Linked DNA regions of Homo sapiens. The protein of the gene in region 1 interacts with the protein of each later gene in a pairwise test. Each region holds a gene or a part of one and is shown on either strand. Other genes may lie near its edges.

Region 1 (5,712 bases):
CCACCTGAGGTCGCAGGAAGGGGTGAGGGAGGGAAGCTGTGCTCTCTGGCTAGGGGCCGGTACAGCCTTCCCCTCACCGGCTCATCCTCTGAGACTCGACCCAGGTGCACCTTCCTGATCACCTCCTGTCGTAAGTGCCTGACTTCCCCTGTAGGTTAGGGTCTGGCATAGGGTAGGTGCCAATGAATGTGAGGGGGAAAGAATTGAGACTGAGGGAATGGCAGGAGAGGGCAAAGGGTGGGAAGAGGTGTGGTGCCGAACACCTATTAACCTCAGTAGGGAAGGCACCAGGTTTGAGAGGCCAAAGAAAAGATCCATAGCCAGCAAACGGAACATGGGGGTTTCAGGAGGCGGAGGTTGCAGTGAGCTGAGATCATGCCACTGCACTCCAGCCTGGACAACAAAGTGAGACTCTGACTCAAGAAGGAAAGAAAGAAGGAAAGAAGGAAAGAAAGAAAGAAAGAAAGAGAGAGAGAAGGAAGGAAGGAAGGAAGGAGGGGGGGAGGGAAAGAAGGAAAGAAGGAAGGAAGGAAGGAAAGAGAAAGAAGAAAGAAAGAAAGAAAGAAAGAAAGAAAGAAAGAAAGAAAGAAAGAAAGAAAGAAAGAAAGAAAGAAAGAAAGAAAAAGAAAGGGAGAGAAGGAAGGGAAGGAAGGAAAGGAAGGAACGTGGGGGTTTGTTAGGGGCTTGCCTACAGGAGAGAGAGTCCACTGGTGATGAACTGGACAGGAGAACCGCCTTACATACAGAAATGGTCCAGGGGCGGCGGGCTGGACAACATACCAGTGGCGGCCGACTGGGCAGGAAAACCTCAGCCCCTTGCAAACAGCATGCAGTTTATAGAGCATTTTCACTTTACACCATCCCCTAATGACCTCCACCTGGCAATCTTCATTTAACCCAAAACTCAGGGCCTCAATCCCCTGTATGGCCAGCGTTCCACCAGAAGGGACGGGACGGGGGCTCAGATATTCATCGTAGGTAAGAAACGGGTTGGCTACTCCCCAGATTCCTTAGCTCGGAACACATATTCAGGTCTTCCACACAGGGTCATTCTTGGAGCGTGCTTCAGTTATCCCTGTCAGGTGCGTTTACCCTATAAGAAGGCCCTTCAGGGGACACTCTGGCAGCCTGAGCAGTTTGCACAGTGAAGCAGTAGGTGGCTCCCCAGCTCCTCCTGCCTGCACCACACCACACACACATGACTGTGGTCAGGGCGGGGGCCGTGTAGTAACTACCGGAGTGGTGGAGGGACCAGGAGCCACACATTGCTGTTTTAGCCAGTGACAACTTCTGAGCACGAAACACTCACTTTTAGGTCATATTCCTTCCACCGTCTTCATGAAGTCCAGGTGCCCAGTCTCACTGTCTCCGTTTTTCAGAAGGCAGTCAGTTCAGGGAAGCTGAGCGCCTTCCCCAGGGCACCCAGTCAGCCGGGGCAGAATTCAGATCAGAACTCCCGACAGCTGAGAACGCCGCACGGGATCTGCCCTCCATACGACCATGCCTGAGCCGTTCCCTCCTTTCCATTTTAACAGGGGCTTGGGTTGGGCAGAAAGGACCCAGCTGAGAGGAGGAGCAGTGTGGGGGGACGCGGCGGACAGCTCCACCTGTCGCTGCTGCCCAGCAGGCTGGAGACACGGAATGGCCCCTCCCCTTGGCCCCCTGTCCCCGATGCCATAGTTCTCATCCATTGTCATTGTACTGTCTCAGTGCTGCTATATTTAAGACGGTGCAGTCTCCGGGATCGCATTCTTCTCCCGGTGCCCGCTGAGCCGAGGGCAAGAAGAGAACAAGGACCCTCTCGGCCTCAGGAATCTTCTCCCCAGAGACTCCTAAGTGGGCACACTGCTTCTGTGAGTCACCCCCAGAAATCAGGGTGGGGGAGGGATGCCTCCTAAGAGTCAGCCACTGGGGAGTGATATCTGTGGGTGCATGTGTGTGTGTGTGTGCACGTGTGTGTGTTTGTGTGTATGTGTGTTGTGTGTTGTGAAAGGAGCCTGGGAAATTTGTGCTGAGGCAGCACCCAAGTGAAAATGGGAGGGGATTCCAGAAACCCCTGCCCCATCCCACTGTTCTGTGTGGCCCTGGGTCTTCTGAGAGCTGAGCTGTCTGTGATGTGAAAGTTGCAAAAAAAAAAAAAAGAGTGGGGGCTGCCCTGGGAACTGGAGTCTTTCCTGTGATGGAGCAGCGATAAGCGGGAGCCAGGCTAAGCTGGCAAGTTCCACGAACTTAGAGCGGAGCTGGCTGAGCCCGGCTTGGCCAACCCCACAGGCAGGGAAAGAGAGCGAGCCCTCGGATCCCAAATCTTAGAGCTGGAAGGGATTTCATCCAGTGCCTGACAGGAAACCGAGGCCCAGACGGGAAAGGAGTTGCCTCAGCTCATGACTGGCAAGGGCAGGATTCGGCCTCGCGGAAGCTGGTGGAGCCACTGGCTAAGAACACGTCCCAGCCTGTGCCACCCGCCGCCCGCAGGATGTGTCTCTGCTCCCAGCCACCATCCGCCCCCATCGCAGCTCCTGGAGGGGTCTTGGCTCAACTGCTGTGCATTCCTCTTTCCCTCCTGAAGAAGGGGAGAGGCCTCCTCGGCAGATGGAGGCTTGGGAGGAAAGCAGAGGGGAATAGGGAAGGCCACGCAGTGGGACCTCTGGCCCAGATTTTTGCACCCCAAGAGAGGGAAGCGGGGGCAGTTTCCCCTCCACGCAGGCACACACAGTGTTCCGGGAAGAGGCACCCTGGTCCTTTGGGAAAGGGCAGTGAGGCCGCAAACTTGTCCCTGCTTAATACCACGCATCAGTCAGTGCTTTAAAAAGAATTGGTAGCTCATCCGCTAAAGCCAGGGGTCTGGTTGCTGGAGGCCCCGAGGTCAGGGACGAGCGCCAGGCCCCTGCCTGCTGTGCTAATCGGGAACAGAGCATCCAGGGGAAGGGAGCCAGTGGCTGGTGCCAGGGAATGTTAACTCTCAGCCACTGGAGCCAGGGCCATCGTGTCCCAGGAAAGCTGGGGCAGAGTGGGGGGTCCTTGCTCCACCTAGGGTGGTACCCAGCAGCTCTCCTCCTGGGCCATGAGGAAGAAAGAGCAGAATGAGCAGGGCTAGCCACTTCTTTGGGTGCAAAGAGAACTTCTTCCATCGGGAGGGAGTGATACGAAGCCAAAGAGGGTGACTGTCCCATTATGTCATTTGAGATGATTAGCAGGAGCCCAGGGAGCTTTAGGGGGCAGCCCTTGGTCCCAGCTAACCCTGCAGCCATCCATTCTCTTTTTCCTGATGCCCACAACTGCAGACACCCAAAAGGAGCAAACTTCTAGGAAGTAGAAGGGGTAAAAGCCCACTAAGACTGACCCTCCACAGCCCGAGCCCCAGACACCTCCACCACATGCCCCTTCCAGGCCAACGGCTCTCCAATAAAGCCAGTGGGCTCACCTTCCATGCCATGGACTTAGAGAAATGGTCACCTAGGTGCTGTGTTCACATCCAGGCAGAAGACAGCCTACACATGCACGCACACACACACATACACACACATGCACGCCCACACACACACACGCTGCCACCTCCAGCAGGACCCTCTAGAGAGGCAGGGGCCAGACAGAGCTGACCCCACAGAAGCTGACAGGAGCAGGCCAAGGCAGGCGGTCATCCCTCTTCTGTTTCCATCCCCACGCCTGGGCAGGAACCCTCCCATGCCAGAAGCCTGCAGACCAGGATTCCCACCTGGAGGAGGTGTGAAAGCCATTCCAGGGATTTTAGCTTTAGCATCAGGGGGGCCCTCAGAGACCCAGCAGTGACTGAAGCCCGGATATGAGAAAACTCAGTGCAAAAACCCACAGCCAGCGGGCACACGGGCCTCCCACACCCCTCGTTTGCCTCTCCATATCCATGGATCCGCTTCCTGAGCCTCCCCTGGGTCAATCTGATCCGGCCCCACTGGGCGCCATCACGGGCCTAGACTTGAGCCTTGGGAATGCAAAGGAGATGTGTACATTGCAATCCCCTTATAAGGAGAAAGGCCCTGTGGCCCACCGTGTCCCCAGCCTCTGCCACGGCCTGGCCTTGAATGGACATATGACATAGAGATCAGAAGGGCTAGGGGTTGGGCTAGGGATTGGCTGCCAGTCATGGCCCCACCATCATGCTGGGTGACCTTGAGCAAGTACTGCCCCTGTTCATCAGTAAAATGGGATAATAATGGTGCTGTCCTCATTTGGGTTATTGCAGGGACTGGGGATAATGCATTTGAAAACTAACATGGGCATGGAACATAGTAAGTTCTCACTATTGTTACTTTTAATTCACTTACAGTCTTGTTGAACAGTCAAGATGCACAGATACAAAATAATTACATAGAGAAAGCATTGTCTGAATCAATGCTAAATTGTGGAGTGCTAGAAAATAAGTACAAAAGAAATGAGAAGAGGGAAAATTCTAGGTGGCCTGTAGTCTTTCTGCAAGGCTTCTTAGAAAAATAATGCTAATGCCTAATACTTATGTTGTACTTACTAAGCCCCAAGCACTCATCTAACCTTCACAACTACCCTGGGAGGTTAGTAGACCCATTTTACAGATGAGGAAACAAAGTCATGAGTCTTTCCCAAGGTTACACACTTGAAAGCTGGGATAAGGAGCTGGGATCACACCCTGTGGGCTGGACTCAGAGTCTCTCTGCTAATTAGCATGCCCTCAGTTGGGGTTTGAAGCATGACTAGAGCCAAGCGGGCCAGGAGGAGGGGAAGGGTGTGCCGGGAGAGGAAACCAGCGTGGGCAAAGGCCCAGAGGTAGGACTGAACATGGCCGGTGCAGGAAGAATGGGGACGCCTGCCCGTCCTGAGTCATAGACACAGCCGTGGACATCACAGTTTCAATTACTCATTGTCTGGGGAGCTGAGGCCCATAGAAGCGAAAACCTTGCCACAGATCATACAGTGAGACAAGGGCTGGGCTGCAGCTGGAAGCAGCTAGAAGCCAGGGCCCTGCTCCCTAACGTGGGGGCTCTGCTCACTCAGCTGGGGAGCACATGGGGTGGAGGAGAAGCCTGGCTCAGAGCCCAAGGCCTGCCTCTGTCACCTTGGGCAGGTCCCTCTCCCTCTCAGACCTCAGTTTCCCTGTCTGCCGACTGCAGAGAGGACACCCCCACCCCCCATCCTGCCAGCCTCCTAGAGATGTTGGGAAGACTGCATGGGAGGGGATAGGCGGGCACCTGGTGGAATGACCGTGGACCTTGGCCTTCACAGGTTGTTGCTCTCGTAACCATGACTCTGCCGCACAGCTTGGGAGGTGCGGGGGACCCCCGGCCCCCCCAGGCCATGGAGGTTCACAGGCTGGAGCACCGGCAGGAGGAGGAGCAGAAGGAGGAGCGGCAGCACAGCCTGCGCATGGGCTCCTCTGTGCGGAGGCGGACCTTCCGCAGCAGGTGGGAGCCACAGGGTCCCCGCCCAGCCACTGCCCTGTTCCCAGGGCCCCCAGTCTGAGGAGGGAGGCCCAGCCTAGCCCTCTGGAGGCTCCAACCTGATGGGGGGAGGGACATCCCTGCTTTCTGAACCCCCTGTCTGAGGGGGGAGACACAATTGGCTCTCTGGAGACCCCCATGTGATGGAAGAGGCACAGCCCTGTCCTCTGGAAACCCTGTTTGAGGAGGGAAGCACATTCAGGGTCGGGGGGATGCAGCCTTGCTTTCTGAGACCCCAGTATGAGGAGGGAGGCACAGCCCTGCCTGC
Region 2 (5,117 bases), on another chromosome or scaffold:
TGGCCATGAGTAATGATGGGTGACCATCAGGTTTGAAGTGCTTGGTCCTAGGCTGGCCTTCATTTATATGCGGCTCACAGACTAGGTCTGTGATGTCCTTTGATGTCTACCTCTTTGTCTCCTGTACCCTACTTGCTCATTTTGGAAAAAACCTTCTGGCTTGAAGTTCATTGAGTGACTCAGGAGAGAAGGCAGTCATGGGGTGGAGTAGGGTGAAAGTGAGAGAAGGCACCTAGCATTTCCTGGTATTTCTTTTTTTTCCCCTGCAGGTCCTGTTTTTGTAGCCAGAGGCAATTCACTTTGGACTCCACCTCTAACTTTGCCAGTTTAGGATTTTTTTTTTTTTTTCCCTCTTAACCCAGGTTGATTTCCTAACCCTTTTCAACCTCCTCTGTGCAGCTTTCAAAGGGCAGGAGCCTATGTTCTGATCAGTGTCTTGGAACAGGAAATGGGGTAACCAACAAGGCTACTCAGGTTTAAAAGAGATCAAGAACCAGATTCCCATCTGACCAATGAAACAGAAGACCCAGGGAGGGGTTGGTCTGTTCAAGACTGCCTCACTTAGTGGAAACCCATTCAAGCCAGCAAAATATCAATGAAGCTGGGGGTTTTTATTTTGCTTTTCCCATCAGTATGGAAGAGTCTGTTGATGGGCTGATGTCTGTTGCCTTGTGGGAGGGGAGTGTGTTGGCTGGGGTGTGGAGCAGAAGCCACAGCCCCACTCAGCACACAGCCCGCCTTCCCAGGAAAGCTATTTTCAGAACTCATTCACCAGTATTGTTTGTGATCTGAAATGACTCCCACAGTGTTTGAAGCTAGATGGAAAATTATCTGCCCTTTGATCTGCCTAAATAAATAATGAGGAGCCCAAAGAGGTTTTCTTTTTTTTTCCTTTTCTTCCCATCCTGATTAAACCACCGGAGAAATTTAGCTGCATGTATTTTACAGGAAGATACATATTTTTTATCCTCCCACCTAAGTTATCTGTGGATTTCTCTTTCTTTCTGTCCTCAAAAGCAACAGAGCCCATGATGATCTACCCTTGTTGAGCAGCATTTTAATACACAGTTTTGCTGTAACAGGTTTTTCTCTATGGGAAAGGAGCAGAGTGCTTGATAATGCTTGATGAATAAGCAAACCTAAAATGGCCCTAGTGGGAGGATGCTCCATATGAAATTTGGGTCTGCATCAGGCAAATACTGGCCGTAAAATTGTTGCAGGGCCCTACATGAGGGAGTGGCACCTATTGACAAATTACTGGCAAAAGGAGGTAGTTGAACTGCTTTCCAGAAGTGTACTGCTTTAAGGTGGTGACACATTTTCCCTCCTTTATTTCCTTTAACCAACTAGCTATACAGTTTGTGAGTACCTTTCCAAGTAACTGCTGCTAGCAGCAACCAATTAGAAGACTACATTCTGAGCCCTTAATCCACAAATTACAAGTCAGGATGCAAAGCAAACTCTTTGAACAAATTGCTGTTAAGAAAACATTTGCTTGCTTTTCGAGGTGCAGTGAACTGCTGGAGATTTGCTGTTAAAATGAACAAAATTATAAACAATCCTTTTATTACTTCATCTTTCTTATGCCCTCCTCCCCTTAAAAAATAAATACCTTGAATGCCCAGAACCCCAGATGAGAAACAAGGCAAAGGCTATCTGAATAATTTTAAAATTTCAGAATCTTTGTCTTTCTAAGTGCTGAACCTTTTCTGCATCCTGGGTTTATACATTTATCAACTGCTTTTAAAAATTAAATCATTTCTGTTTATAAAGCAGCCACCTCCTTTCAATTGTTGAAATCATGCCCAGATCTGAGGTTTCTTGAAATCCTTGTTTAGTGGAATCTAAGGGTGACCTAACTCTGTAGTTCAGAGCAGAGCTGGTTGTGCAAGAGAAACCATCAGGAATTTGCAGCCTGCTCCAGGATTCACAGATTCACCGATTCACCATTGCAGAGCCTGGGAAAGGCAGTTTCTGTGGTGAGGATCAATCAAGTTCCAGGCTATTGGGTGGCACCTGCTCTGGTGAGAGTGTGTGTGCAGGATTGCACATGTGTGTGCCAGGAGTGTGGAGTGTGTGTGTGCATGCACATGTGTGCATGTGTGTGTGGCTGGGGAGGGTGAGGGCTCCCAGTCATCGAGGTGGCAGGGTGGAAGGTGCTGTGTCAGCTGGGTAGAGTGGCTTTTACTTTCCCTTTGAGTCCTTACTACTGTCTCTGGGAGGAGTGTACCCCCCACCCTACCCCACTTCCCAGCTTTGGGGAGGATCCTGATTTTAGTCACTGGCCTTTGTCCTGCATGTATGCTATGTCCCCTTTTCTGCAGAGCCCCAGTGGCCCAGGTAGCCTTAGGAAGGAGCAGGATGAGGGGACGGAAGTGGCAGGAGGCAGGTCAGGGCTTGCATGGAATCATGTGATTCTGTTGTCTGCAGGCGGCTTGTTGTTCCTGGTTAACGTGTCAGTGGGGAGCGATTCAGGCTGCTGTGTGCTGGAAGGACCTGGAGAGTGTGCTGCTCACATGGCTGCCACCTTTATTATTACTGTCATTACTTTTACTGTTATTATTTAACTTGGGGTGTATTTTGGCTTCCTCTGACATCCGCCCCCTCCAACTCTCCCTTACCCCGTCATTCCTTAATCTCTTTTTCTCACGGGGAGCTTCACCCCAGTGTTCATTCCGTCCTGCTTTCCCCTGGTGGGTGGATGCTGGAGCCCAGATTGAGTTCTTCACTGAAGGGCTTTCTCTCCCTTTGTGACTGCCCAAGCCATTGCTGGTTTGCAAACCAGCCAGTGACGGGCTGCCTTGGTTTTCCCAACATCACGGTGCACTGAGATCTGCTTCCTTTTCCAGCCTGGGGAATTGAGGGGCAGCTGCCTTGTCTCTGCTTATCTTCATCCTCAGCTTATCTGACCCCAGAGACCTCCTTCTGGAGACCTCATGGTCTCCTCCTTCCCAAGGTCCCTGGAAGGCCATGTGCTGTTGTCCAGGGAATGCAGGGGCCTTTCAGTCTCCAGGCAGGAGGGAGGCCAGTGGCTGAGTTTGTTTGAGAGAGAGGCCTGGGTTGCTTGATGAGGCCCAGGGGAGCTGTGGAGAGAAAGCCCATTTCAGAACTGGGCGTTCAGTCTTTAAAAGAGAATACCTCCCAGGCCTTGGACTGCAAATCCTGGGAACAAAAATGAAGGTTAATATAGTGATTTTTTTCCCTTAAAATTTGAGAGCTGCATTGGAGAACATGAAACTTAAGCCCCTCTTTTCTGCCCACAAAGCAGAAAAGAGACACACAAGCCCCAACAAATCTCAGGACATTATATTTTAACTCTGTAGGCATGTAGAAATTGTAATAGCTCTCATTCAAAGAGAAAAAAGAGCACTTAGTCTTTTACCTGTGAGGAAACTGAAGATCCATAGAATGGAAAATAGGAGCTCTTCACCAAATAAATGTATAAATAACTCCCAGGCTTTTGATTGAATGAGTGCTTTGAGCTCTGGGGAAAAATATTATGTATGGCAGCAACTTTCCAGTTGTACTTATGAGTACCATGTCAATTCTTCTTTGCCCAAATAGTTCGCATGCCCTCTTCAATATTCAGCAATTATTTATAATGACAGATGTATGTGATTGGAAGAATGTGGGTACACCAGAGGCATAGATGGGCCTGAGCGACAGAATCCAGGGTTTGTACAGGTTTGAGGACTCTTGGGGAAGATGTAGGTTATTGGGTATCCATGAGAAAGTGTTTGGAATGATTTTGTAGCTGTAAAAAGCCCTTATAGTTAAGATCTCTTGTAAAGATGGATACATGAACAGTAATGGTAACTGGAGTGTGTGTCTGAGGAATGTGCTTTAGCATCTGGAATGCCAGTTAAAAGTTAATTGCTCCTGGTGATTTGTCCCAGTTCCACCATGAATTTTATGCAATTTATTGCAAAGATTAAATGGATATCCTTTAAGTAACAAGCTAACAAGGTCAGCTTATCTCACTGGGAGGTAGAGAAGTGACTGTAATTCCTATTCCGCCAAAAATGAGAAGACCCCAGTATTTTTGCAATTTATTTGTGACCTCAAGAATAAAATGGGCTCATGCAGATTAAGTAACTTGCACCAAGTTACACAGCTCGTGAGCAGTAGAAGAGGTCTCCAGACTCCCTCTGTTGGGATCCAGATCCCATGCACTTAGCCATCTGTCTTCCCTGGATTGAGAAATATCAACTGTAGAACAAGTGTCCACAGGACATGGGAGCATATGAGGTTAATTGGGCATGAGCTAGGGCATGAACAAGCTTTTTGTCTTCAGTGCACACTGACAGATACTATTCCTGGTAGTGGTGATGGTGGAAGTGATCCATCCACATACTAATTGTTTCCCTTAATGGCTAATAGTCATTAGGTATGAATTATTTATACTTAGGTGTTAGCATTTTGTACCTGGTAATTAGGTACAAAAATGGGAGAGCCACATTAAACAATGTACCAAAGGTCTCTTTCTGGAACTTTCTATGAGCAATAGGTTGGAAATCTAAGTATCAGTGCACAGAAATCAATGCATTATGGCAGTAGAAAAAGCCAGAAAATGGGAATTGGGAAAGAAGGATTCTATCTTGGCACCACCACTCTAATATTTGGCAGATGACTTCCCCTTTCTGGACCTCATTCCCCATCTGTCCAGTGATAGAGTTGAACTAAATAATTTTCTTTTAAGGCCTTTCCAGTTCTTACATTTTGCGATTCATTACATCAAAAATAGTATGTTAGCATTGCTTGTAACCCTCTTCAAGTCTTTTTATGGTTACTGCTAATGGGAATCATTAAATCGTTAACAACTGGAAGCAACAATAATCATTTAGTGTCTCTAATATAAGTATCTACCAATCCTTGAATAGTTTTTTTTCTTTTTTTTTGTGAATGTATGAATTACTAAAGGGAGTTGCAGATAGCAAGATGGGGGTGGTTTTTATGGCTGTTTGTTGTTTCCATCCTGGCAAATGGAACATAGTTTCTAAACTAGGATCTTTATGTGTGCTGGACCACGTGTATAATGTCAGAAAAGGTTTAATTTAAAATAATGAGATGAAAATTACCTTGTAGAAGAATCGTTTGAAATGTTTAGACTTGAGCAA
Region 3 (4,730 bases), on another chromosome or scaffold:
TAGAATTTCACACACACAAAAAAAAGAGGCCAGGTGCAAGGTGGCTCATGCCTGTAATTCCAGAACTTTGGGAGGCTGAGGCAGGAGGATAGCTTGAGCCCAGGAGTTTGAGATAAGCCTGGGCAACAAAGCAAGACTGTCTCTACCAAAAAAAAAAAAAAAAAAAAAAAAATAGCTGGGTGTGGTGGTGAGTGCCTGTAGTCACAGCTACTCAGGATGCTGAGGTGGGAGGACCGCTGCTTGAGCCCAGGAGGTTGAGGCTGCAAGGAGCTGTGATCATGCCACTGCACTCCAGCCTGAGTGACAGAGTGAGACCCTGTCTCAAAAAAAAAGAAAAGGAGGAGGGGCACTGGGTGCGGTGGCTCACGCCTGTAATCCCAGCACTTGAGAGGCCAAGGCCGATGGATCACTTGAGCTCAGGAATTCAGGACTAGCCTGGCCAACATGGCAAAACGCTGTCTCTACTAAAAATACCAAAAGTAGCTGGGTGTGGTGGCATGCACCCGTAATCCCAGCTACTCAGGAGGCTGAGGCAGGAGAATCGCTTGAACCTGGGAGATGGAGGTTGCAGTTAGCTGAGATTGTGCCACTGCACTCCCACCTGGGCGACAGAGTGAGAGACTCTGTCTCAAGGAAAAAAAAAAAAAAAAAAGGCCAGGTGTGGTGGCTCATGCCTGTAATCCCAGCACTTTGGGAGACGGAGGCAGGTGGATCACTTCAGGTCAGGAGTTCAAGACCAGCCTGGCCAACGTGGTGAAACCCCGTCTCTACAAAAAATACAAAAAATTAGCCAGGTATGGTGGTGCACACCTGTAATCCCTGGGCAACAGAGTGAGACTCTATTTCAAGAAAAAAAAGTGTGATCTGCCTAGGTTGGAGTGCAGTGGCACAATAGTTGTTTATGCAGCCTTGACCTCCCGGACTCAAGTGATCCTCCCTCCTGTCTCCCTAGTAGCTGGGACTATAGGTATGGGCCCCACGCCTAGCTAATCTTTTAACATTTTTTGTAGAGACAAGGTCTCAGTATGTTTCCGGGGTTGTTCTTGAACTCCTGACATCAAGTGATTCTCCTACCTTGGCCTCCCAAAGTGCTGGGATTACAGTTGTGAGTCACCACACCTGGCCTGGAATCTGCATTTTTTATAAGACCCCTGGATAATTTCTTATGTGCATGAGAGCATAGGGTTGGGGGACTGAGTTTCGCTCTTGTCACCCAGGCTGGAGTGCAGTGGTGCGATCTCAGCTCACTGCAACCTCTGCCTCCCGGGTTCAAGAGATTCTCCTGCCTCAGCCTCCTGCGTAGCTGGGATTACAGGTGCCTGCCAACACGCCCAGCTAATTTTTGTTATTTTTAGTAGAGATGGGGTTTCACCATGTTGGCCAGGCTGGTCTTGAACTCCTGACCTCAGGTGATCCACCTGCCTTGGCCTCCACTGCACCTGACCTGGGGAGCTCTTAAGAATACTAATACCGGCCAGGCGCGGTGGCTCACGCCTGTAATCCCAGCACTTTGGGAGGCTGAGGCGGGCAGATCACAAGGTCAGGAGATCAAGACCATCCTGGCTAACATGGTGAAACACCATCTCTACTAAAAATACAAAAAATTAGCCAGGCGTGTTGGCGGGTGCCTGTAGTCCCAGCTACTCGGGAGGCTGAGGCAGGAGAATGGTGTGAACCCGGGAGGCAGAGCTTGCAGTGAGCCGAGATCGCGCCACTGCACTCCAGCCTGGGCAACAGAGCGAGACTGTTTCAAAAAAAAAAAAAAAAGAAAAGAAAGAAAAAGAAGAATACTAATGCCTTGGCTCTATACCCAGAATTTTTTTTTCCTTTTCCTTTTTTTTTTTTTTTTTTTTCCAGAGACAGGGTCTTACTCTGTCACCCAGAATGAAGTGCAGTGGTGTGATCCTAGCTCACTACAGTGCAGAACTCCTGGGCTCAAGGGATCCTCTCTAGTATTTGAGACTATAGTTGTGTGCCCACTTCCAGTGAATTTTTAAACATTTTTTAAAAGTGTTTATTATTATTTTATTATCTTTATTTTTGAGATTTATTTTTGTAATTCCAAAGCGCTGGGATTATGGGTGTAAGCCACCGCGCCCGGCCACCTAGGCTGGTCTTGAACTCCTGGCCTCCTCAAGTGATCCTCCCATCACAGCCTCCTGAGTAGCTGGGATTAGAGGCACTAGCCACTGCCCCAGCTATCCCCAGAAATTCTAATTTAGTTTGGCATCAATATAGTTTTAAGAGTATTCCAGATGATTTATAATGTGCAGTCAGGCATCGTCTTAAGAAAAAGAGGCATCATCAGACAGGGTGTATGCCAAAAAAAAAAAAAAAAAAGAAAAGATAATCGAATAATCTGCAGAGGGTGGTGTTTGGAGACTGGCAGCTGGGTCCCCTCTGGAGTGGCCCTGGGGAGTGACGCACAGAGGCAGCGTCCCAGAGCCATTTTGGCCCACTGCATTAATGCCCTCACCCCCTCCTGCAGGGTTGTGCAATAGCAAAGCAGCTGGGTGCAGAAATCTACCTGGAAGGCTCAGCTTTCACCTCAGAAAAGAGCATCCACAGCATCTTTCGGACGGCATCCATGCTGTGTCTGAACAAGCCTAGCCCACTGCCCCAGAAGAGCCCTGTCCGAAGCCTCTCCAAACGACTGCTCCACCTCCCCAGTCGCTCTGAACTCATCTCTTCTACCTTCAAGAAGGAAAAGGCCAAAAGCTGTTCCATTATGTGAAGTGGAAATTGGAGGGGGGAGACAACCCCCTACTTCCTCCCTTGGGGTGCAGAGGCACGGGGAGAGGGAGGATGAGACAATTTAGGACACTGGACATGAGTTTTTCAGATGGCCACGGTGAGGGCTTGGAAGGAGACAGGAATGGGGCGAGGAAGGAGCCAGGCCCGGCATGAGGACCTGACGCTGAGAGAGAACCATCATACCCCAAGCCAGGCACTAGATTTTGGAGGGGGCGACTACCCCAGTGCCCCCCCCGCTCCAGAGGAAGGAAAGCTGTGGGGGACGGGGGGCATGCTGGCCTCATGGGCTTGGGGGCCTACAGCAGCCTCACCTTCAGCTTCATGCCTCTTCCACACAGCGTTTCCATGCAGGTCAGGGGATGGGAGGGGTCCCTGAGCCCTTCCCTTCCCCTCTAAGGAGGCAGCAACGGAGAGTGGGGAAGTGGAGCGGCAGCTCCCTTGGGGGCTTAGCCCAGGTGCTTCGTAACTGCAATCGGAAGTGCAGGAGCTGGTCAGAGCCAATGAGAAGGAAACCTCATCTTTGCATAGCCCATGCCTCATGGAGAGGTGACATCATACATTCACATGCTTCTCACCTAAGTCCCCAGGGTCCAAGGGAGAAGCCCCAGACCCCCTTCTCTTGCAGAGTGTGGGGGTGGTGGTGCTGCAGGGGCAGGGCTGGGTGGGGGTCACCAGACTTTTTCTGCCCTTAGGGTAGTACAGCTGGCATTTGTTTTATAGACTCTTGTCTTTGGAATTGGGGGGAGGGGGGGAGTGTTTCAATCTGTTATATGTTCTGTGTTTAATGAAGAAAACCTATTTATTAATGAAAAATATAATACATATAAAGAATTTGGCTCCGTATTTTTTTCTGTTTTCTTTAGTTGTTACAATTGGTATTTTTTTTTTTTGGTCTTTTTTTTTTTTCCTTTTTGTGGAGAACAGGGTCTCGCTATATTGCTCAGGCAGGTCTCAAACTCCTGGGCTCAAGCTATCCTCACATCTCTGCCTCCCTAAGAGCTGGGATTACAGGCATGAGCCACCGTGCTTGAGCCCTTTGGTTGATGATAATGAGAGAAAAGCTGTCCTGGGACCCTTTCTGTGGGTTGCAGAGGGGCTGCCTCCACCATTCCCCAGCTCCTCCAAGAAGGAGCTTCTCTCTTCCCCCATCCCCCTGCCCTAGCCCCACCCAAGACCTACTAAACCAAGGAAGGGCTCCTTAGCCCGAGAGCAGGGGTGCAGGGGTTCTCAACCCTGGAACTATTGACATTTTGGACTGGATAATGCTTTGTTGTGAGGGACTGTCCTATGCAGCCCAAGATGTTTAGCAGTGTCCCTGATCTGGTGGATGCTAGAAGACAGCACCCCACTCTCCAGCTATCACACCCAAAAATGTCTCCAGACGTTGCTAAATGGCCCCTGTGGAAAAATTCTGGTTGAGAACCACTGCCCTGGAGAGTCTAGAGGAGAGAAAAAGGTTGGATGAAATCATCAGTAGAGGATCCAAGCTGCTGAGATTCCACCCCACATAGAAGGTGGACAGACTAAGCCAAAGCTGGGGGAGGCTCCTGGGATTCTGGTCTCCTCTGAGTTCAAGGAGAGGTGACATTTGCCTTCATGACCTTCCAATTCCGATGCCTACTGATGGCAGCTCAGGGGCCTTAACTCTTAACTTCCTTTCTCAGTGACTTATAGCTCTTGTTTTCCAAGTGCCATAGTGTAGTGCTAGTGCCAGAAATAAAGTTAGCATGTACTAGGCCAGGCGCGGTGGCTCAAGCCTGTAATCCCAGAACTTTGGGAGGCTGAGGCAGGTGGATCACAAGGTCGGGAGATCGAGACCATCCTGGCTAACACGGTGAAACCCCATCTCTACTAAAATACAAAAATTAGCCGGGCATGGTGGCACGTGCCTGTAATCCCAACTACTCGGGAGGCTGAGGCAGGAGAATCGCTTAAACCCGGGAGGCAGAGGTTGCAGTGAGCCAAGATTGCGCCAC

The links.
Region 2: the proteins of MYOM3 (region 1) and AMOT interact in a two-hybrid assay, tested with the Homo sapiens proteins (one large-scale study listed by BioGRID and IntAct).
Region 3: the proteins of MYOM3 (region 1) and RND1 interact in a two-hybrid assay, tested with the Homo sapiens proteins (one large-scale study listed by BioGRID).

Annotation. Positions count from the first base shown.
Region 1 is NC_000001.11:24,108,172-24,113,883, reverse strand, and holds the start of MYOM3 (myomesin-3), read left to right. Parts: upstream 1-1,748; 5' UTR 1,749-1,853; intron 1,854-5,229; 5' UTR 5,230-5,247; coding exon 5,248-5,408; intron 5,409-5,712. UniProt on the Homo sapiens protein: May link the intermediate filament cytoskeleton to the M-disk of the myofibrils in striated muscle.
Region 2 is NC_000023.11:112,816,187-112,821,303, reverse strand, and holds part of AMOT (angiomotin), read left to right. Parts: intron 1-1,865; exon of another isoform or gene 1,866-1,979; intron 1,980-5,117.
Region 3 is NC_000012.12:48,856,000-48,860,729, reverse strand, and holds the end of RND1 (rho-related GTP-binding protein Rho6 precursor), read left to right. Parts: intron 1-2,488; coding exon 2,489-2,734; 3' UTR 2,735-3,585; downstream 3,586-4,730. UniProt on the Homo sapiens protein: Lacks intrinsic GTPase activity. Has a low affinity for GDP, and constitutively binds GTP. Controls rearrangements of the actin cytoskeleton. Induces the Rac-dependent neuritic process formation in part by disruption of the cortical actin filaments.